7 linked regions of the Homo sapiens genome follow. The protein of the gene in region 3 purifies or fractionates together with the protein of the main gene of each other region. This does not show direct contact. Each region holds a gene or a part of one and is shown on either strand. Other genes may lie near its edges.

Region 1 (3,500 bases), about 150 Mb from region 3:
TGCGGGGGGTGGGGGGGTTGTGCGTGCCTGTGGGGGGGGGTGTGTACGCCCGTGTGTGGGTGTGTGCCCATGTGCGGGTGTGTGTGTGTGTCCCTGTGACGGGAAGGCGTGTGTGCCCGTATGTGTGTGTGGGGTCTGTGCGCCCATGTGGGGGGGTTGTGTGCGTGCCCATGTGTGCGGGGGGGCTGTGCCCATGTGTATAGGGGGGTGTACGCGCGCCCATGTGTGTGGGTGTGTGTGTGTCCGTCTATGGGGGGGCATGCCCATGTGTGTGTGGGTGTGCGCCTGTGTGTGTGGGGCTGTGTGTGTGCCCGAGTGCGCGGGTGCCAGTGAGCCTGTGGGGGGTATGTGTGCGCCTGTGTGTGTGTGGGGGGGTACGTACCTGTGTGTGGTGTGTGTGTGCGTATCTGTGTGTGTGTGTGCGGGGTGTATGTGCGTACCTGTCTGTATGGGGGTGTGTTTACAGGTGTGAGTGTCCATGTGGGTGTGTGCCTGCCCGTGTTGTGTGGGGGTATGTTTGCGGGTGTGTGAGTGCAGGCCTCTGTGTGGGGGTGTCTGTGTGTGGGCCCGTGTGTGCAGGGGTGTGTGTGTGCCCGTGTGTGCAGAAGTGGGTGCACCTGTCTGTGTGTGCTGGGAGTGTGTGTGCGAGGAGTGTGTGTCCGTGTGGGTAGGTGCCTGTGTCTCCATGTACATGTGTGCACACGTCTGCATGTGTGCCTGTACACGTGTGCTGGTGCGTGTCTGTCCGAGTAGTTTCCCCTGCTCTAGCACCCACCGTCAGCAACCCCAGCGTTCTTGCCCCGTGGCCTCTGACCCACTGACTGGTCCCACAAAGCCACCTACGTTCTCAGGGACGCAGGCGCCTCGCAGGGGAGGCTGAGCTCACCTGCTGCTTCAGTTGGTCCTCGTAGCGCTGCCGGGCCAGCTTGTCTTGATACTGGGCCCTCTGGGGGAGAAGAGGGCGGCAAAGACACATCTCAGCCGGGAGCTGCAGTCTGGGCCGACTGGGCGGAGCGCCGGGGACTCCGACGCGCCATCAGCCTCACACAAACGTGGGGAGGCGCGGGGACCTCCCGTCCGGCTCAGCAGTGAGGGACCTTACAGGTCTTAGGCGTTTGTGCAAGGCCGTTCCGAGGGCAGCTCTAATGGCTGACTCCAGAGTGCCCCGGGACCACACCCAGCTCCCAGTCCTGCCCCAGGCCGCTCCCCGCAGCCGGGCGGCCTCCCTCGCGGCCTCTTGCGCTCTTACGGCCTGGTGCTGCCGGGTCTCCTCGCTCAGGGTCTTCCTCCTCTCCTCAGCCTGCGCCCGGATCTGCTCGCTCTTGAGCTGCTCCACGGCGGCCTCATACTCCTGCAGAGCACAGCACTCACCAGCTGGCACTTGCTCAGGGCTGGCACTGCCTGACAGCCGCTCCTGTGTCTGCACGGCTCCGGCACGGCAGAGACTCCATGCCCAGACTAGTGTGTGCAGCAGGCTCAGGGCTTCCAGCCGCATCTGCACCCAGGATCAGGCCCTGGAGGAATCCAGACCCACAGGCACAGAAGCACCAGCAGAAGCCCGCGAAGGCCCCCCGGGAGGGAGGCCGGACACCCCCTTTTGGACTGCACTGAGGGCAGAGCTCATGCTTATTTTAGGAATCCTGCTGAGTGGACCGGGTGCGACGGCTCTCGCTTATAATCCCAGCACTTTGGGAGGCCAAAGTGGGTGGATCAACTGAGGTTAGTAGTTCGAGACCAGCCTGAACAACATGGTGAAACCCCATCTCTACTAAAAATACAAAAATTAGCCAGATGTGGTGGCGGGCTCTTGTAGTCCCAGCTGCTCGGAGGCTGAGGAAAGAGGTTGAACCCGGGAGGTAGAGGTTGCGGTGAGCTGAGATCACGCCACTGCACACCGGCCTGGAAGACAGACTAAGACTCTGTCTATAAAAAAATAATAATATGAAACAAGGCAGGCACAGTGGCACAAGCCTGTAATCCCAGCACTTTGGGAGGCCGAGGCAGGTGGATCACTTGAAGTCAGGAGTTCAAGACCAGGCTGGCCAACATGGTGAAACCCCGACTCTACTAAAAATATAAAAATTAGCCAGGTGTGGTGGCGGGTGCCTGTAATCCCAGCTATTCAGGAGGCTGAGGCAGGAGAATTGCTTGAACCCAGGAGCGGAGGTTGCAGTGAGCCCAGATGGCACCACAGAACTCCAGCCTGGGAAACAGAGACTCCGTTTCAAAATAAATAAATAAAACGAAATAAAACAAAAAAATCCTGCTGAGTGTAATGAAATGAGAAGATCCAGGCCATCCGGACGACCAGACGCCCTCACCAACACCGGCCCTCCCTCCGGACGACCAGACGCCCTCACCAACACCAGCCCTCCCTCTCGGGCGGCTCTGCGGCAGCGTCTCTCACCTCCCTTTGTTTCCTTCTGTGAAATGAGGCGCCCAAGCTTGGCCCTGGGCCCCACTGCTGCCCATGTACACACCCCCGGCCCTACCCACCGGCAGTAGCCCTACCAATCTCCATGCCCGAACCCCATGTGCGCCCCGGCCTCCCCACCCACACCGGCCCCACTCACTTTGAGCTTGGACTGTTGCTCCAACTGCAGCGTCTGCTCCTGCATCTGTGCCAGATTCAGGGCGTCCTTGGCATAACCTGCAGACGCAAGGACACGGAGGGCAGGTGTTAGGATACACGGATGCCGCTGGGCAGGCACGCACACCAGCCAAGGGGCTTTCTGGAATCCACGGCCACGCCTCGACCTCAAAGCCCCCAGCCCTGCCTCCCCATCCTCCTTCCTAGTCAGACCTGGCGTGACGATGCACCATCCCCAGCACACGGCCTGATGCATTTGTGAGGTTTTATCCCCCCAGGGATGGTCTTGGAGAGCCACATCAGGAAGGCCATCCCACGTGGACGGGAGGAGGCTCTTTCCCAATTCAACAGAAAGTCAGGCGATGGCTAAAGTGTCCTCTATTTTTTCACGTTACATTCGCTTTTCCTAAGCTTCCAATGGCTGTTGTCATTGATCTGCTATCAAGCACATGCAGGCAAGAAAGGGAATGAATAAGAATAGGATACCAGCCAACAAGCTCAGGGTGACGAGGACAAGCATCTGACAACGTCCTCAGTTACGTTTTGTTCCTAGAGGGGAACTGACACAGGTCGATGTTTGGGTGTCGTGGGACAGAAGTACGTATTCTCTGAGCTGCTGAGGCCTCAGCATCAGGTCTCAAAATTTTCTGGGATGACAGTTTTCCCATCATAAAACTTTACCATAAAAATCTTTTGGCTGGGCGCGGTGGCTCACTACTGTACTCCCAGCACTTTGAGAGGCTGAGACGGGTGGATCACTTGAGTCCAGGAGTTAGAGACCGGCCTGACCAATGTGGTGAAACCCCATCTCTACTAAATATACAAAAATTAGCTGGGCGCAGTGGCGGACGCCTGTAATCCCAGCTACTCTGAGGCTGAGGTGGGAGGATGGCTTGAACCCCGGAGACAG
Region 2 (3,500 bases), on a different chromosome or scaffold from region 3:
CCTGACTTAGAGGAAAACCAAACATAAATAAACAAAAAGAAAAGAAAAAAAAAAAGGTGCCTGCCTCACGAGTGAGCACAGAGCAGCCTCATGCACATAAAGCCCCAGCACTGCCCCTGACGCACAGCACATGGCAACATGCAGCCGACTGCCTGCCGGCAACATTTGCATAAAGGTGGCCAAAAGCTCACCATCAGTGTCATTACTCTGGGACCAGGTCCTCCGAGTCTACATTTGACTCAAGTGCGGGTCAGCAAGACACAATCTGCCAACAAAAGGCATGAGGTCCTGGGGACTGCCACCAAAGGCCCAGTATGGACTTGACACCCCAGTTTGCTGGCCTGGCCCCTCCTGATCTCAGGACCCTAGTCATAAAGCCTCTAAGAGCCATCAGGGGTCTCCCAGGACAAAGGAATGGGGGTGCCCTGGAGAACAGTAACTTGTATGGGGTCCCCAGAAGAACACAGCTCAATAGTCCCCAACTTCTGACTCATGTGGTTTCCTAATGTCACCTGGCACCCCAACCCCTTCCTCTGAAGCAAAGATATTTGACCCATGGGGAAGCTCTGTTGAAAGGAATGAAATAAGCTAGAAGTAGGACTATCTGTCTGCAATTCTTGGACCTTGAAAGGTCCTTTGGGTTACCTGGCCCGCTGTCTGCACAGCACTGGCTCCCTGGCCAGCAGGAAGGCTAGCCTCCAGGCTAAGCCCCCCATCTCCGAAGCCTGCGCCCCCATCTGGGAGCTCTGGAGCAAAATCATCCCCTGAGAACATCCCAGAGGAAAGTAGGCAAGCCTTACTGTCAGAGAGAGTTGGGTTCAAACTCCAGCTCTGCCACAGACCCACCGTGTGCTCTGGGACAAGATACTACTGTTCTGAGCCCCCATTTCCTCATCTGCAAAATGGAAATGCACCTAGCTTGCAGAACTGTCTTAAGGAACAAAAAGAAAATGTGTAATGGTAGTACTGAAAGTACCTAATTGTTTTTGATAATAAATGGCCCCTGTTGACCCAGTTTGTGCTTTGCCAACACAGATGTCAGAGGGTCATCATGGCTGACTATGGACTAACTTACATGTCATGCATCAGCTCCATGAAGCTTCTCGACAACTTACAATGCAGGAGCTATTATTGTTCCATTTTACAGATAAGGAAACCGAGGCTGAGGAAGCTTAAACAATGCCTAAGTAACTTGCCCGAGGTCATAAGTTGGTACCTAGCAGCCCCTGGGCCAGCCCCCAACCCCCAGGGTTCCTCCAAGGGTCTCCAGACAGAACAATGCTCACTTGGCACAGCGGACCCAGTTGATATGCTGGCTCAGGGAGAACAGGAATTTCTGGCGATGAGTTGCCCACACTTTGACTGTCTTGTCGTCAGAGGCTGTCACGAAGGACTGGCCATCACTGCAGAAGTGGACACTCCTCACTGTGGCTGTGTGTGCACGAAACACAGTGGACTCACCTTTGCTACAAGGACAGGCATCCAAGAGTAAGGAAACCCATAACAGTGACATGAGAGCCCACAAGCACATCAAAGCTCTCCTACTCCTCAAGCACCCCTCCCAAAGTCAGTCAAGCCCGAGTACCCCAGTCTCCACAAGGGAAAGCCAGAGCCTCTCCTATATGAACAGAGCACCATCTCTAGGCCCCACCCACATGAACACAGCATCAGGTGGCATTTCTTTAGGGATAGATTGGGTAAGCCCAGAACTCCTCTTCCAACCCTGAGGGGAGGGCTCCAACTGCAGCCCCAGCCTCTGATGGCACCTCTTCCAAAGCAGAGTAGAAGTCCCACTGTGACCAGTCCAGAGCCAAGCTAGGGGACCTGGGTGGGGATGGCTCTGGCACCAGGGCCCCAGACTCCAACAAGCCTCCTCAAAGTGTACGACTCACACATTGGGTACCCAGATGCGGACAGTCTTGTCTCGGGAGCCGGAAGCAAGCAGGTGTCCCGAAGGAGAGAAGTTCACACAGGTGACGGCATCCTTGTGGCCAGTGAAGCGGTAGGCGCGTGACTGCGGCTTCATGTGCCAGACCATGAGGCATGAGTCCATGGAGCCACTGGCTGAGGACAGTGGGTGATGCTATGACCTACAGCTCTAACAGGCTTCAAGCCTCCACCAAGACATTGGAGAGGCAGGGGGAGCAACTGGCCCAGCTCCATCTTCCCTGGCATCCACAAACAGACCGTGAGAAGTCTCCCATGGAGCAGAGCACATCTCGAGGTATGGTCTGGAGGTGGAGAGCCTGTGGCCCAGAGTTCTCCAAGGAGCACACCCACATGGGAATAAGACCGAGGCCCTTCCCATGCTAGCCTTGGACTGCAATCCAGAGCTCTGGGAAAACTCATTCCCATGGGGCCCAGGGTCTCCCCCCAGACACATCCTGAGGGCACCAGAGAGCAAGTCCTCCCCAGCTGGGAAGCCAGCCCCTCCCATTGAGAGGGCCCAACTCAGTATGAAGCCTAAAGGAGGTCCCCAAAACTGATCAAAAATCACTTCAGTTCCCTCTTAACCTTTACACATCAGAGGGTCTTGATGACAGGATGAAGGGGCAAGCCTCCTCTGCAGGAACCAGAAAGCGCAGTCATAAAAGCTGTGTACGAAACCTCATGCAACCAAGGAAGGGGGACAGTCAGCTGCAGCATAAGAGCAGTGGGGTCGAGGGGGGTGCCCATCTCTGCTCAACAGCCTTCTCACTGACAAGGCTCTTCAACAAGGTGTGCCTTATTACTGTGGGCAACAGAATCAGTAAAGCTTCAAGGAAAAGGAGTCACTGTTTAGGGCCCACACCAAAAGACAGACCCAAAAGGTGGCTAGGGTGTGCAGAAAAGACCCAGATCCCAGTCCCACCCTCAAAAGCTCTGTGGCCTTAGCAAGGCCCCTAACCTCTCTGACCCTCAGGCTCTGCATGTAAAATGAAGCTCATGAAGCCCAGTGCCCAAAGAGCTGGCAAGCAGAAGCAAGACTAGAAGCAGGTCTAGACAAAGCTGTGCAGTCCTTGTGCTCTGCTTCCCACCCACCACCCCTCCGAGGTAAAAACTTGGCCTGTTCAGCTCATAACCTAGCACCTAGACAGGGTGCCTCTTCTTACCCAGCTGCTTTGTGTTGATACTGAAGTCCACACAGGTAACTGCATCTCGGTGGCCCTTAAAATGCCTTTCCAGCGAGGGGTCCTCCTGAGAGAGAGCCAGGGTCAAATGTGTGAAGCCTGGGTGAGGAAGGGGCTTCCCCAGGGCCAGCACTCTTCCTACAACAGCCGGGGGAGTAGGGTTAAAAATGCTCAAGGCATGATCTTATATAAAGAAAATCCTAAGGAATCCACTTAGGATTAGTTTTTACTAGGAATAGTTTTTACTATTTGAATTAATACATCAACTGTGGAAATGCTTCAACAAAAACAAAAAACAAATGAGTTCAGCAAAGTTGCAAGATACAAAATCAAGACACAAAAATCAATTGTCTTTCTGTACACTAGCAATGAATAATCCAAAAAATAAAA
Region 3 (2,710 bases):
ATTTTTTTTTGAGACAGAGTCTCTATCAGTCACCCAGGCTGGAGTGCAATGGCATGATCTCGGCTCACTGCAACCTCTACCTCCTGGGTTCAAGCAATTCTCCTGCCTCACCCTCCCGAGTAGATGGGATTAGAGGCATGTGCCACCACCCCCGGCTACTTTTTGTATTTTTAGTAGAGACGGGGTTTCACCATGTTGGCCAGGCTGGTCTTAAACTCCTGACCTCAAGTGATCTGCCCGCCTCGGCCTCCCAAAGTGCTGGGATTACATGCATGAGCCACCACGCCCGGCCATATATATATTTGTGTAGAATTGTATCATCTCTAGGATTTGGTAACAGAAATTCCTTTTAGAAAAGCACTGGGAGAAAGGGAAGATACCTGATTTTCCATTATTGTTATTCCTCATACCTATGTGGGATTCGTTCCAGGATCCCACTTCCTCCAGGTAGCAACATCCTTAGATGCTGAAGTCGGTCATGTAAAACAGTACAGTATACATTTATTATTTATTTATTTATTTATTTATTTATTTATTTTGAGACGGAGTCTTGCTCTGCTGCCCAGGCTGGAGTGCAGTGGTGCAATTTTGGCTCACTGCAACATCCGCCTCCCAAGTTGAAGCAATTCTCCTGCCTCAGCCTCCCAAGTAGCTTGGATTACAGGCGCATGCCACCGTGCCCGGCTAATTTTTGTATTTTTAGTAGAGACAGGTTTTCACCATGTTGCCCAGGCTGGTTGCAAACTCCTGAACTCAAGCAGTCTGCCCGCCTTGGGCTTCCAAAGTGCTGGGATTACAGGCATGAGCCACTGTGCCCAGCCAGCTGTGAATTTTGACATGCTGAATTCCATAAAGCCTCAACAGAACCACTGGAAATTTCTGTAGAATTGATCTCTTCTGACCTGCAACAAGAGGAATATCAGAGAAATGCAATTTGGCCAATCTAAAGACTCCTTCCATATTATTAATCTAACACAACACTTTAGAAAGATATTTTATTTTTTAGGAAAAGAGCCATAATTATCTTAAATGTGAAAAACCACATCCAATAAACTGATATAAAGTTTTAGGAACAAGGGAATATCTTATTGTCACGCATTCACAGTGAAACCCATTTTAATGCAGGTCCAGAGCCAACTGCAGTCCTGTCCAATCCCATAGGTACAAGGGCCTGGCTCCTCTTCCTGTGTACTGCCCGACTTCCTCATCTTACTGGGTCCAGCATAAAGCAGATGTCCACTGTCTTCCTCACATGCTGTGATCTTGGCTTAGAGGTAGGCACAGTGCCGCTCCAGCAGCGAGGGGTTCGCGTTACTTAGGAACAGCAGCTCTTTTTTCCCTTCTTCTGTAGGAGCTAAAATGGAGACAAACACAGGTAAGTGGCAGTTTCCTCCTGCTGCACTGTGTTCCCCAGAATATCGTGTAGTCAGAGGCTACCATATCCAAATTACGTTCTGAGGTAATTATCATCTCCCAAGAGATCTTACTTCTAGACCCTCACCCCAACAAGCTACTCTTCTTTTGTATGCATTACTTCCTTTTCTGTGTCTACTCCTCCAAACCAGCATGGAGCTCTCTCTCCACTCCAAGAGTGTCTTCTGGACTTCAGGATTTTGTGACATCTCCCAACTCTTAGAAATCTGTCTATTGTGCATCCCAACTTAACATGCTACAGTTAGTCTTACACTCTTCACTGTACTCCTTTAATAAGCTATTCTAAATAGTATTTTTTTTTTTTTGCTTTTTTCAATAGAGATGGGGTCTCACTATATTGCCTAGCCTGGTCTCAAACTCCCGACATCAAGTGGTCTTCCCACCTTGCCCTCCCAAAGTGTAGATTACAGGTGTGAGCCACTGCACCAGGCCTCCGATTACTATTAACTCTATTATCTAGTGATAGAGCAGCCTTAGCTTTTCTTCTATATCCCCTCTTCATACTCAAATGTGAGGTCAAGGGCAAGTAAATGAACAGTTGGAATGCTTTCAGTCAGAGTAGATGAAATATAGTGCTGAAAGTTAATTTCTGTACATATACTAGGACAGGTGTGGCAAAGATTTACTTAGGTGCTGGAGTAGCCCTTGCACAGTATGAATTTTTCTGTGGGTGTCCCAGCATGAGTCTCTCCAGTGAAGTCTATTGAATAAATAAATTCAATAAGGAGAATGTGGCAGGAACCCAATTACCTGGAAATTCTGCCCAGTGGATGGAGTTGCCTTTGTTCCCTTCTTTATCATGGAAAATTTAGGGATAAAATCTCTTTTGTAAATTAAACCTTAACTGCCTCCCACCCGCTTTTCTGTACCATTTATCAGCCAGAAAGAAGTCAAGATAAAGGATGAAGTACAAATTAGAGGCTGTTGTTAAGGGAAGAAGAGATCAAGGCTCTGACTGAGTGGGATTCTACTGTGATCACAAAGCCCTGATAGGAAAAAACTAAATGATGGACCTTTCTCATGTTGAAGCCAATTGTTTTCCAAATAATACTGAATACAACTTTCAAATTCCTTTGGGTTATAGTTGGAAACCAGGATGGGAATAAAGGGATCCAGGGCATCAAATCCTTCCTGGGGAAGAAAAAGGATCAGGAAACATGTTAGTTAAGGAACAAAGCACCAGACAGACAGACTCTACTTAAGCACTTTGAAGGTAAGGTATTTGTTTTTCTTCTATGTAACTCTACTTCTCATTCTCTGGCAACATTGCCTGATA
Region 4 (3,043 bases), on a different chromosome or scaffold from region 3:
TCTCCACTTTGGCCCGAGGGTTACTGTGAAAAGTGCAGATGTCCCAGGAGCCCTATCAGGGAGTTTACGTCATTAATCTGATCTTGTATCCATTAAAAATATATCCTAGTGTCTATCATATTTAGGCCCTGGATTACCCTGGAATATGTTCAGGACGCCTGTTTTAGAGATTCTAATGATTTAAATATTGGTAAATTTTTAAACTAAGTATTTTCTGTTAGGCTTTTAAACACTAAGAATACTAAGATTTTAGGTATGAAAGCATTTACCTTCAGCTTTAGTGGTTAAATTTTGGTAAGAATTGGAAAATCATTCAGGGATCCCTGACTTAACAATTACGTGGATCATTTCAGGCATCAGTAAGGAAAAGTTAACATGAAGAAAACAACCTAAGCGCACACATTAAGAAATAAGCAGAAAGTGCTAGCAATGAGATGCTTTTCAGCTCTCACGTTTTACTGAGCAGTGCAAAGTCAAATTGAAAAACAGGAAATGACATATTACGAAATAGACATATAAAATTTAATTCCTTTGGTTTAAAATACATCTTCAATGATACAATTAAAAATAACACGCAAGACAAAATCAACTTCATAAAAAATACAAAAGTTATATGACCCATATCCCATATCTTATCTTAGAAAACCAGCAATTTAGTTCCCATACTTCATTAGAATACTTTAACCTAAGACTGTAACTACCAGTCCATTTACACGAATGACCTAGTCTAGTTCCCTGAACCTAAAGATACCCGTGACTTTGTTATAAAATTACATATTTTAGTATTTTTATATACTTAAATGTGTACAAAATGTTCCCCTGCCATAGTAACATATTTTTGTGAATTCATGAATGTTTTCTAGAATTGTTAACATACAAGATAATCAAAGCACGAAGGCTCTGATGCGTGATAAAATAATCATTTCTCAAAACAGGAAGATGAGAACTGCATTTCGAGTTGTATCACTTGGTACGCAATACTTGCAATCTGTGTGCTGTAATTACAGTGTTTCTTCACTCTAAGTGCATCTGACTGATACTAGCATAACAAAAGACGTGATTGCAGTAGTGTTTTTCTTTTACTTCATTTGTTAAACAGTGCAGAAATCCAAATAACAACATTCTCAACAGCAAACAGAATCTCTGTCATTTGAGAAGGTTTTGCTATGCTACAGAATGCCTGTGTTTGGAAAAACAGAGAAAAAGGTTTTTAGCGGGTTCCACTAAGCACAGTATTCTATCTGCTTGGTATACACGATCAAAAAATAACTTAACCTTTGTCTAGGGAAAGTCTTTAAGGTAGCTCTTACTGCATATCTTCACTATATGTACACAGACACCATATTTATATATTATATATTTATATAAGACATGTATGTACACATTTACAGACCTTCAAAAATATATTGCACTTATATACAATGCAGCTTTATCTTAACTGATTTCATACTGTAACCCATTAAAATTCTTCATGAGAAAGGCAGTTGATATGTCCGAGAAAGTCGCAAAGGAAGATTTCAGTAACATGCCCTGTTTAGTAAACATCTGGTGGAGAGTGAGAGGGTAAGGGAGAGAGGGCTCCCCCCGTACTCTTCAGGTGCGCTCCCGCTAACGTGAGGCAGTGGAGTTGTACTGAATTCAGGCAAGGGCACGAAATCCTTAAAGCCAAGCCTATCGCCTTTTCTGACTTCTGCTAGCGAGCAGGCCCACGACACTGTAGGCACAAGGCAGAGATCCCAATATTTTGATAAATAACGTAGCAGATGTCCTAAAGCTTCCCAGAGACTCTGTTAACTCTTGGAATAAAGTTTTCACTTTAAATCCTGTATATATCAGGAAATTCAAACATAATGGTATATGGATTTCTCTTTCATCTGAAAAACACCAATGCAATAGATTAAATGCTACCACCAAGCCAGATGCAGCCCCGCCTCCAACCTGCAAGGAACCCATTCCCTCGACATAGACCTGTGCTGGCGACATGGCTGACTGGGGTTACCTGCAGTTGCCAAACCGTAAGATCTAGAAACACCTGCACTGAACTCCTGGGGAGCTGTGGCCCGCAGGCCTTTAGATCTCCGTCAGGGTGAGCTTGTAAGACCCCCCGGCTTCTTCAATCTGCAGCTGGAAGGTGTCCTCATTGGAGTAATGCTTCACAATGTTGTCGTCCATGTTCACCAGGATCCTGGATGGGGGGGGACAAGACCAACCAACTTCACTGCCACTTGGTCCTGGAGTCAGACCTAGATTGACCTGTTAGCTCTCCCACTTACTAGTTGCAGCATGTGAGGCAAATTATTTAAATCTCCTTAAGCCTCAACTTCCTCATCTATAAAATGGGGATAATAATAGTACCCATCTTATAGGATTGCTGAGAGAATTGAGTTAGGAGGAAATCAGGTGATATATTTATATCATAGCATTTGGAAAATGAAATATACTGGCTTATTTATGATTATTATTTCCAGCATGTATTTCATAGTTGTCACTTGGTAAATGGTACTTGGCTCATACCTGTGATGCCAGCACTTTGGGACGCTGAGGCAGGAGAATCACTTGAGCCCAAGAGTTTGAGACCAGCCTGGATAACATAGCAAGATCCCATTTCTACAGAAAAATTTTAAAAACTAGCTGGACATGGTGGTACATGCCTGTAGTCCCTGCTACTTGGGAAGCTGAGGTGAAAGGATGGCCTGAGCCCAGGAGTTCAAGGCTACAGTGAGCTCTGATTGCACCACTGTACTCCAGCCTGGGCGATAGAGTGAAACCATCTCTAAATGAATAAAGCAAAAGCACATCAATAACACTAACTTACATGATGTGAAGTCACAGCCCCCTGACAAATTACACACTCCAGCAAGTGAGCCTCAAAGTTTAAATGAACTACTATTATCAAACAAAAAATAAAGAATACAAAAACAAGAAAATAAACAAAAATAAATTAACTACTATTAAGTCCAACTCTTTCCACTAGAACCATCTAGAAATTTCCCATTAGAATTTGTTTTAAAACTAAGCCAAAAAATTCTTATGCTAGCCACTG
Region 5 (3,500 bases), on a different chromosome or scaffold from region 3:
AGGGAATTTTAAGTAGGGTAAGACAGGAGCACAGGTGTTTAAGAAGCAATGTCTGGTTATATAATCAAAGCGGTAAAACATTTAAAAATAAACATAGATGATAACACAATTTTAAATAATTTAAAATTCTTTTCACACGTGAGTACTCCTTGTTCTCTCTCTCTCTTTTTTTTTTCTTAAGAGCATTAATCAAGTCAACATAAAGCACTGAAAATAATTCTGGTGAGACACAGAATGTCTGCTAGCTAGGCAGATTCCACAGAAGGTAAAGAACATCCTTTCACATTGTAGGCATTAATCAGTAAAGTAAGGAAGCAAGCCATCAAAACTGAGGGAACTTAGCCAAAATTGTAATGCATCTTATACCTTTTTTTCAGACTAAAGTATTATAAGCCAAAGCAAGTAAAACTGACTTTCCAAGTTTTGTCCTTCATTTTTCTCTTTCATATTCCAGAACAAATAGACACTTTAGTATTGCCCTTTTCATCTTCATTCTCTCGAAAGTATACAATGGAGTTTTCCAGAAGCTACATGATAAGTGATATTATGATTATGATAAATGCAGAAAGATGATTATCCATCTCTTCTATTAAGCCAGACATTAGAAAGGCTCGCAAAAATATTAAACAATGTCATTTTTCTCATCAAAATTTTTTGTTTTGGAAAATATCTTTTTTTACAGAATATGTGACTTATGTTAAAATGAAATGGATTCATCATTGCTATTTTCAAATGAATTAATATTTTAAAAATTTCTCAGTTTTAATTCCAAATTAAGTATATATCGATCATTATCACTTACTAAACCAAAGCTCTTTGGTGTCGTCAAATAAGTTGTAAGAGTATAAAGGGATTGTGAGACCAAAAAGTTCAAGAACCACTGCTTTGATACAAAGCTACCCTGTTTTGATTTGAAAAACAAAAACCACTGTATTTCTTTTTCATTAATGCTCCTGGCATAATCTCAACCACCCATTTAAATTATAATAATTAACCAGAGAAACTAATTTATATTTCATAGAGAAAATTAGGAGGAGGGAGGATATGGACAATTGGAAATCGTCCCATATAATCATTTTAGCAGACTAGCAAAACTCATGAACACACATTACTGAAATTTCCATAGTGACATAAGGCACTTTTACATTCCCTTAAAGTGGCAAAAAATGAACTCCTGTATTGACACAACTCAAAGGTATAGCCTCACTATAGCATAGAAAAATAAGAAGCAAACATATATAAACTTAATATTATACTTTATAATCAAAGTCACAGTATTCTAACTTACTTAGAAATTATCTAGGTATCCAATGATTATTGATTAGCTCAGGTTAACATTAGTCCATTTTGTTACCTAAAGACCTTGGAAATTATCTTTAAGTTGATACGCTACAAAACATAATTGCTATTCATATAAAAAGTTTGTCAGAATAGTTATTCAATTCAGCTGAACACAAATTTATATTTTTAATAATCTTAAACATTATGTATGAGTTCACTTGACCAGCTATCCTGAATAAATTTAGGAGAAGTAAAAATAAAATGCACACTTGTATTCTGTTCAACACTAATAAATCAGAGAAAGATGTAACATTTTAAAACCTATGTTACTAGTCTCATTTGCCAAATGAAACTTAATTTTATGAACTTGGATTCTTAAAATATTACTGAATTGGCTAGCAGTTTCTATTAAAAGAATTTTTATGTTTAAGTCTAGCAGGTTCAAAATATTAGAGGTTTGATGTTCTGTGATTTTAGGAGGATTCAACTTATAAAAGCACTTGTTTATCAAACAATCAGAACAAGTTCTTTTAATTTAAAAGGTATCGTAATCCAATTTATTGACACCCTCTGGAAATAGGAAAGCATTCCACACACAGCAAGAGGTGAAGGCTTTTCTGGATTATAAACACATAGACACACACAGCTTAATAGCTTTAGTTTTTCAACTTCAGCCACAGATCAAGAATAAATAGAAACACAAAAAAATCACCAGTCCAGATATCAAAGAGCTGTTCTCCTTCCCAGTAGAAACAAAATTCTTCATTGATTTGAGCTCAAAATAGACGAACATACAAAAAAAAAAAAAAGACCAAGAAACTATGTACCCTATTCTCTCACCCAATAGAGAATAGATCTCTGTAATCCATTGCTAGCAATCACTCAGACCATAAAACTAGATTCTCCATCATTTTTGCCGCCAAGAGGGAATAACTTGTCAGCCATGCACAAACTAGAAAGAAAAATAAAACAGAATCAGGAGAGAGAGAGTAAAAACTAGAGAAATGGAGAGCCTGTGAAATTCAAGTCTGTTACTGCTATGGATTCACTCTGGGAGCCAAGTAAAGGCATGCCTGGTCCCAAGCCACTTGTGAGGTGCACACCTCAGGCAACACAGTTTACCTGGCTGTGTCAGGTAAATCCAGTGGGCATCTCAATGGATGACCTCCAAAACTCTTCAAGGATAATTTTTTAAAAGGAAAAATCATGACTCTTGAACAAATGTGAAATGAACATACGCTACACATTTTGATCACTTAAGGAAGGAGGGAACCAGTAAGAAGTTACAGCCCATTCAACAATCAGCTTTTTTCCTTAAAAAAGGAAAAAAGTTGTAACTGACAGATTACCTCTTCCTGGGGCCTGAACATGCCAGGAGCATTCAGACTTATTTTAAATCCTGGATACTCTTCTGACCTTTAACATGCTGAAAATTCCAACAGGTTTCTAAGATCTACACTGGGGGCTCGGAGTGAGTGAGCACATTGGCTGACTTTGCCAAGGTTTCTGCTGCGAGGCCTTGCATTTGTTCTCCTAAACTGTCAATAACCCTTGGTTTCTTTCACAGCGACAGAGTCCAGGCCCTCTCCTATGCACAGCACACGCGACAATTGATCTCCTGTGGCGGTGATGGTGGGATTGTCGTCTGGAACATGGACGTGGAGAGGCAGGAGGTAGGTGGCACAGCAGGGTGGGGTGGGCCCTGTGGTTCTGGCCCTGCCTCCCTTCCTGCTTATTTCTTATTTCTTTTATGATTAAACCATGAAATAAGGCATGTAACGTTAAAGAATTGTAGCATAAAAGGAGTTGTTTGGGTTGTTTTTTTTTTCCCTCACAAGTTGGCATGTAACATTACTGTGATGGAGAGTTCATAAGAATTTTGACTGAGACTAAGCTGTTTAAATCTGTTACACCATTCACAGCAAAAGTACAGGTGAGGAAAAGAAACCATCTATTTCCTGGTGATTAGTCCTTTGGTATAAAATGCACTACAAAAACGGAGGACTCACGTGATTTATGTCATGGAAGAAAATAGTGGCTAAGATGAAGCAAGAATCCTTAGTTTGGTATTAATAGAAATACTAGAAATAATTATTTTGTACTTTATAAGTCATGTTCTAAATAGTTCCCCAGATATCAATATATCCTTAGTTTTCTAGCACGTATTTACATGTTATCAGAACATTCTTTTTTATGAGCTTTCATTTTAATCTTTGAGC
Region 6 (3,500 bases), on a different chromosome or scaffold from region 3:
GATTATAAATTCTAACTGGAAATGCCTTTATAATAAATGACTGGCTTCACATTTTAAATCTCTTTGTATCACCTAAAACACAGCATAGCACTATGACTATCTATTGAATAAATTAAATTATAATGTTGATATCATCCTTCAGTTAAAGAAAATTATTTATTTTAAAATACTAAACCTGTATGTTGCTGTTCTCATTTGCCCGTCGCCTGCCTTCTACTCGGCTGATAGTTATAGTCTGACCGATAACATCAATTGCCCCAGGTAATCTCCTGTAACATAAAAATTGAATCAATTCAGTTTCACCTAATTAGATGCTTAAAAAATAATAAAAGCAGTGAGAAATAAAAACAAAATGTGTTTGCAATAAATTTTAAAATAAAACCAGATCACAATACACATTGAAAAATATCCCTGAGTTTAAGCTCACTACTTTGCATTGTCATAAAAATTTTTATTAATAAACAAGCTAGAACCAACATACCCAACAATGATCATAATGTTAAGTTTTAAGTCTCTGTAGAGCTCTTCTACACTTACTAGTTTTAGTAGTCTCCAAATAAATTTATCTTTGTGAAATTAAATAAGACAGCAAATGCTAGACAAATGGAAATTTTGGGACCACTACAATTGTAACACATACTACAGCTCTATTACAGAAACTTTAAATATTCCCCAAAAAGGCCTGAAAATAATGCTCATTTTAACATACACAAGATATTTTCCTTGTGATATATTCCAAGTGTTAAAAAACATAAAAAAGGAACCAGTTTGCCATTTCTGATAACTTGCATTTAGATAGAAAAATTCAAATATTTAAATACCCGCCTCACCTCTACAATCTTTTTAAAGTTTATAAGGATATGGAAAAATAGTCTATCATAAAACAATGCTATAAATTTAAGAGAAAAACCTAGTAAGTTGTATTTTAAATAAAATAATGTTAAAAGCTATTATGCAGATAAAGGACTTTACAAAAGTATGCATGCCTAAGATGATATAGAAGTCACTTGGAGAAATAGGCAATGAAAAGTGGATGCAAATTAGATGAATTTCTCTTCATCTATATTTCAGTTCTGAACAATACTGCCTTTAAAACTTTATAGAAGCAAAACAATTAAAATACCATAGATCCTTCCACAGTCACTAGATTAGGCTCCTAAAATGACAAATAACAGCAGCTACCATAGGTTGGATGCCAAACCCATTATATCTAAACTTCACAAAAACTGAAAAATTACTGTATACTTGTTAGAGACAAGCCATGGTCCAAAGTGAAATCACTGACACAAGCATGAATTAAATAGCAAAACTAACTTTCAAACCTGAGTCTTTCTAATCCCAAAGACTATAGACCTCCCCTCCCCTTGAGCTAGGTTTCCTTCCAGCAAGACCTTTGAGGAATTTAAGGCTTTTCTGGAAATCATGAGTTAGTAAGAGTTTATCTCAAGTAGACCTTGAAACACTCCACAAATTATTTTGTGCTAACAAAGACAGCCCTATAAAAAGCACATCATGACATCTGAAATGTTTTCAAGTACATAGTCAGTTCCCACTTACCATCCCTTGCCCACTTAAGACTTCCCTTCTCTATAACTTTAGTACAATTTAAAAATGTTCAAGCCTTTCTAATTTTATGCCTGAGTCACTGACTTCCTAGATTTCCTCATGATCCCAAAGATCATGAATGATTTCATTGGAGGATTAACATATCCTCCAATACAGCTGGGGAAAGATCTTAATATTCACATGTTACAAAAATCCAAATATCTCTACAATAAAACAAATATTGCTTCCATTTCTTCCCTATAATTTAAATTGCAAAGCTATGCCTACCATGACTGCATTATCAAAGCACATGCCATCAGCCCTCTGATATACAAACATTTCATATTCCAACATCCTACTAAATACAGGTGTGCATTCTGAGGCTGTAATTTCCTCTCTGTTAATTGCTGCCCTCCATTGTCAAAATTTTTATTTTCGCTCTATTTCCTTTTCTACTATTTTCTCTTGCCAATCACTGGACTCTCTCCTTTGCATTTTTAAATTTATTCCCATCAAGAACAAATTCTACCAAATTTGTTTGGACTTGCAAGTCAGATAGCAAATTCTCCAAATTGTTAAAAGTGGTAAAAATTAGATCTAGATATAACTTTCCTGTTGAGGGGAAAATTTTCTATAGCCTGTCTTTTACCATTTATTTCTGAGGATCTCTAGTTTTCAAAAAGTCTGGGACACATGGAAGTATTCACCTCTTAAAATGTACCTTAAATATGGTCAGAAGTCTAATTAGTTTTTTTCAACTTTAAATTGATTGTTTTTAATCACTAAAGATTCAAAATGGCAAATACTATGTTTCTAAAAACATATAACTGAGAAATCAGCCTTAACAAGTATATATCCCTAAAGGGAGTTCAGAAAATTACAATTCTCCACATTTTCAAAACATCTCCTTGTGCCCGTATTTTTTAACCACATAAACTGATTTACTTTAATCATATAAATTAAGCTTACCGTTTTGTTCCAAAATGTTTTATGATAAGACACACAGTATGTACCACAGCAACAAAAAGCACATAATATCTAACACTGACAAATAATTTAAAAATCTAATATTATTCTGATGCCACATTATGGAAAAAAATATTGAACCATATTATTCCACGAAAGTTCTTAATGGACAGCTTTTTCTTTCATTGCTTAAGAAGATTTAATAGAGTTTCCCTATGAGGAAATCTACTGTAACTTAAGAGTTCCCCAAAGCGTAGGTTTGATTAGGCCAACAAACTTGTTCAGTAAGGTAGACAGCTAATGCTATTATCAAAATCCTCTTCTCCATATTGGACTCAACCATCTAGTAAAAAGCTAAGAAACTAACCACTCTGGGTGTCTGAGTTAATGTACAGTTTAAACAGGCAGTAAATGTTCCCAAGAGCCTCTACCTCCCCTCCTGGCACAGTAAATGAATATAAAAATATCTCTGAAGTTACAATGGAATTAAATTATCATATTTTGATGATTCTGATATCCCAGAAAGAATCTGAGGGCTCCCTGCAGAGATGCAACAGAAAGTTTAAGATGACAAATCAGGGCTAATAGAAGATAGACAAAAGGCCATAAATTGATCTCTGAAGGTCAGGCTCACGCATGTAATGCCAACACTTTGGGAGCCTGAGGCGGGAGGATTACTTAAGCCCAGGAATTCAAGACCAGCCTGGGCAACATGGCGAGACTTTGTGTCTACAAATAATTTAAAATATCAGCTAGGCATAGTAGCACATGCTTGTGGTCCCAGCTATTCAGAGGGCTTAGGTGAGAGGATTGCTTGAGTCCAGGAGATGAAGGATGCAGTAAACTGTGATTGTGCCACTGCACTCCAGACTGGGCAACAAAACAAGAGCCTGTCTCAAAAAAAAAATATATATATATACATATATATATATCTCAGCTGCTTTTTCTTGGAAGCCAAAGCAAAGGACATCATTAACAACAAATGTCTT
Region 7 (3,500 bases), about 110 Mb from region 3:
AATGATTCTGGGACTTTTTTAATAAGATGCTGTAAAATCTGACTCCAATTAAATACAGGGAAGATTTGCTTTAATTAAGGAAAATGTATGTGATAAAAGAAATCACTTTGGAAGCTAGCAGTTGGTTCTATATGTAGTTCGTGTAGTGGAACAAATAGACTTGGCTGGAGGCACCTGTCTCTTATGAGGGAGGGAGACAGACTGACACATAACGTGCTGTTTTCTGTATAAAGGAGAGGGTGCAGTGTTCGGGATGACTATTGTGACGACTTTTAATTGGGGTTTTTGGATGCGCTGGATTATATATGCTAGGATTGTAAGGAATTTTTATAATTACAATATTGTATGTAAATTTTCTGCCTTTAAAGACATAATTTCATTGTAAATGTGTTTATTCCAGCCTGAATTACCACCTGATGAATTGTTACAACCTTGTTAGAATTAATTCATGAAAGGGCTTCTCCCTGATGGTTATATTGTGAAGAAGGTGCTAAGTAACATGAGCATAGAGCTTTTAAAAATAGCAGAAGTTTTGGCTTTATTTTGTTAGACTGTGTAATCTAGAAATTCTAAGAAATTCATTGAGTTATTCTTTTGTGAACTGTGTCTACAAAACATAATCGGAGAATGTGACTAGAGGGGTTTATTAGCTCCCCCCAGATTACTGTTGAATTTTGTTAGTGGTTGAGTATTGATCCATATTCACCAAAGATTACCATGAATTGGCAACAGTTTATAGTGACCAGAATAGGAATATTTTTCTGTTTCCAGAGTACTTAAAATGTTTAAATTAATAATTCTTAATGTTTTGAGGTGAAAGAATTTGGAGCAGAGGTCACAAATTTGTGACCTTCTGGCTAAAACTACTCCCAGATGCTTTGATTAGACAGTACAGTATTTTTTAAAGGAATTGGGATTAATTACTAACATTTATAATTCAGGAGATAACACCAAGTAATCCAGATTATTATATTTTTAAGATCTGAACTTTAGCTGGCTTTGGGGGCCTGTATTTCCACATAAGTAAAAACCACCTGGCCATATTGTCACCACATTTAGGTGGGGTATACTTTTTTTACGACAGCCTTCACGCCTGGCCTCTGTGTATGCATTTGAGTTTATTACCCATGGTCTAGGAAGATGTAATAAACCAAGCCAGGGAAAGGTTTGGCTATCTCTCTTTAGTCACGCCTATCAGGTTTAGTCTCCCTTTGGGGTGGGGGCTCCCTTGTGGGGATTCCATATGTACATAACTGATAGGTGACTTCCAACACATGTTGGTGAAAATAGATACAGCTAACAAGTATTTATACTAGGGTCTATAGTAAGTGCTTAAAATGAGCCAATTTACTTAATCTTTAAAAACCTTTGAGGCGTAGGTACTGTCATTCTGAGGCACAAAGGAGTTGTTACTTGTCCCCATAAGCATAGGTGATAAGTGGCAGGATTGGAACTGTTTTTTGACTCTGGAGTTAGTGTTCACCAACTGCTCTTATGCTGTCTCTGAAATAGACCCTAGCCATTTTCAATTTGGTTGTTGTCCACATAGTTACAGATAATTTCTTAGGGTGATTATTTTTAGCCGTTGAAAGACTCTTAAATGATCCAAGTATGTCACTGGGGCTCTTGTCTGCTGACTTGCTAGGTCCTGGATTTGAAAAGTTTTCTGCCTTTCACTATCTACTTTGTGAAGTTTGGGATTGTTAAAAGTTCTAGTTTAGCATGTAGGTCAGCTATACAAATAAAAGGACTTGCTTAATTCCTGATACTGGGAGGTGAAGAATTAAAGGAGAGAATGTTGCACCTTATCTCCCTTAATCTTTTTTTTTTGTATGGCCTGCAAGGTAAGACTGAATATTGCCTTTTTAAAGGGTGATTTTTCTTGAGATGGAGTTTCACTCTTGTCACCCAGGCTGGAGTGCAATGGCACGATCTTGGCTCACTGCAACTCCGCCTCCCAGGTTCAAGCGATTCTCCTGCCTCAGCCTCCCGAGTAGCTGGGATTACAGGCGCCCGCCACCACACAGGCTAATTTTGTATTTTTAGTGGAAACAGGGTTTCTCCATGTTGGCCAGGCTGGTCTCAAGCTCCTGACCTCAGGTGATCCACCCGCCTAGGCCTCCCAAAGTGCTGGGATTACAGGTGTGAGCCACTGCGCCCGGCCTCTAAAGGGTGATTTTTTTTTCTTTTTTAAAGGTGGCGGTGTAAAGTACTTACTGTGTGGTTGTTGGTTGTTTGAAGTGGAGTCTCTCTGTGTTGCCCATATGGGTCTTGCACTCCTGGGCTCAAGTGATCTTCCAGCTTCAGCCTCCCAAATGTGTGGTTCTTAATAGAAGTGTAAACCTTTGGAAGGATGTCATTACCAAAAATCTCTTGGGCTGTTAAAGTCACACTGATCTTAACTTGATCACAGTAGATCCATTGCTAAGCCACATAAGTCATGGGTAGACCGTAACATAACTGACAAAATGTTTTGGCACTAGGGAAGGTTTAAAGACTTTTCTGCAGGTGCTGCTAAGGGAGAGATGTCGAAGGTTCCAAACTGGAACCCTAAAGACAAACATCAATGACATGTATGCAGGAGACATTAGGAGAGATTTGTATGCTGGTTATATTAACCATTGATCTTAAGCTGGCAAGAAGTCATCCGTGTTCACCAAGTCACTGATACGTGACTTGGAGAATACTAGTAGGTCCCACTCCCTGTGTCCTCCCAAAGTACAATCCTTTACTCTTGAAATCTAGGATAGAGAACTAGTATCCAGTTTGACTCGTGAACAATGTGAGTTTGAACCACACAAGTCCACTTACACACAGATTTTTTTTGATAAATATATTGGAAAAATGTTTGGAGATTTGCAACAACCTGAAAACTTCAGATGAACCACATAGCCAAGAAGTATCCCCCAAAATAAGGAAAAGTTGAGTATGTTGTAGATACTAGTCTGTTTTATTATTTACTACCATAAAATGTACACAAATGCATTAGAAAGTTAATACAGCCATTTGCAGTTGAGAAATGTAAACAAACATAAAGATTCAGGCAGCATTAAATCATAACTGCACGACATTCACTGTAGTAATATTGTACTATTATAATATGTAGCCACTGCCTATTGCTACTGCAGTGAGCCCCTTAAAATGCCATGTGACGCTAATCATCTTCACATGAACAGTTTATCTCTCCAGTAAATTGCATGTCAGTAAAAAGAACTTGTAGTACACAGGTATTGTGGTTTAGTGCAATACTGTAAGTCTTCAATAGCACCATGGGACCCATGCAAAGTGGCGCTAGTGATGCTGAGAAAAGTCATGGCATTGTAAGAAAAAGTTCAGTTGCTCGATATGTGCTATAGATGAGGTCTACAGCTGGAATTACCTTTCAGACAGATGTACACTTACCGTATCGATAAGTGCAGTACTGTACATGTATTTTCTCTTACAACTTTCTTAGCATTTTCTTTTCTGTAGCTTTATTGCAAGAATACAGTATATAATAC

Evidence for each region.
Region 1: the proteins of DAP3 (region 3) and ATAD3A purify together in Homo sapiens (tandem affinity purification; one large-scale study listed by IntAct). This does not show direct contact.
Region 2: the proteins of DAP3 (region 3) and POC1A purify together in Homo sapiens (affinity purification with mass spectrometry; one large-scale study listed by BioGRID and IntAct). This does not show direct contact.
Region 4: the proteins of DAP3 (region 3) and GRHL1 purify together in Homo sapiens (co-immunoprecipitation; one large-scale study listed by IntAct). This does not show direct contact.
Region 5: the proteins of DAP3 (region 3) and WDFY2 purify together in Homo sapiens (affinity purification with mass spectrometry; 3 studies listed by BioGRID and IntAct, with this or other methods). This does not show direct contact.
Region 6: the proteins of DAP3 (region 3) and FIP1L1 fractionate together in Homo sapiens (co-fractionation; one large-scale study listed by BioGRID). This does not show direct contact.
Region 7: the proteins of DAP3 (region 3) and YBX1 purify together in Homo sapiens (co-immunoprecipitation; 3 studies listed by BioGRID and IntAct, with this or other methods). This does not show direct contact.

The regions. Positions count from the first base shown.
Region 1 is NC_000001.11:1,515,162-1,518,661, reverse strand, and holds part of ATAD3A (ATPase family AAA domain-containing protein 3A), read right to left. Parts: intron 3,029-3,500; exon of another isoform or gene 2,847-3,028; coding exon of another isoform or gene 2,804-2,846; intron 2,651-2,803; coding exon 2,574-2,650; intron 1,496-2,573; coding exon of another isoform or gene 1,352-1,495; coding exon 1,250-1,351; intron 947-1,249; coding exon 887-946; intron 1-886. UniProt on the Homo sapiens protein: Essential for mitochondrial network organization, mitochondrial metabolism and cell growth at organism and cellular level. May play an important role in mitochondrial protein synthesis. May also participate in mitochondrial DNA replication.
Region 2 is NC_000003.12:52,147,924-52,151,423, forward strand, and holds part of POC1A (POC1 centriolar protein homolog A), read right to left. Parts: intron 3,249-3,500; exon of another isoform or gene 3,178-3,248; coding exon 3,093-3,177; intron 2,065-3,092; coding exon 1,893-2,064; intron 1,467-1,892; coding exon 1,287-1,466; intron 1-1,286.
Region 3 is NC_000001.11:155,736,801-155,739,510, reverse strand, and holds the end of DAP3 (small ribosomal subunit protein mS29), read right to left. Parts: intron 2,566-2,710; coding exon 2,448-2,565; intron 1,355-2,447; coding exon 1,269-1,354; 3' UTR 501-1,268; downstream 1-500. UniProt on the Homo sapiens protein: As a component of the mitochondrial small ribosomal subunit, it plays a role in the translation of mitochondrial mRNAs. Involved in mediating interferon-gamma-induced cell death. Displays GTPase activity in vitro.
Region 4 is NC_000002.12:9,999,735-10,002,777, reverse strand, and holds the end of GRHL1 (grainyhead-like protein 1 homolog), read right to left. Parts: intron 2,186-3,043; coding exon 2,071-2,185; 3' UTR 501-2,070; downstream 1-500. UniProt on the Homo sapiens protein: Transcription factor involved in epithelial development. Binds directly to the consensus DNA sequence 5'-AACCGGTT-3'.
Region 5 is NC_000013.11:51,748,462-51,751,961, forward strand, and holds part of WDFY2 (WD repeat and FYVE domain-containing protein 2), read left to right. Parts: intron 1-2,848; coding exon 2,849-2,954; intron 2,955-3,500. UniProt on the Homo sapiens protein: Acts in an adapter protein-like fashion to mediate the interaction between the kinase PRKCZ and its substrate VAMP2 and increases the PRKCZ-dependent phosphorylation of VAMP2.
Region 6 is NC_000004.12:53,422,641-53,426,140, reverse strand, and holds part of FIP1L1 (pre-mRNA 3'-end-processing factor FIP1), read right to left. Parts: intron 270-3,500; coding exon 176-269; intron 1-175.
Region 7 is NC_000001.11:42,685,418-42,688,917, forward strand, and holds part of YBX1 (Y-box-binding protein 1), read left to right. Parts: intron 1-3,500. UniProt on the Homo sapiens protein: DNA- and RNA-binding protein involved in various processes, such as translational repression, RNA stabilization, mRNA splicing, DNA repair and transcription regulation.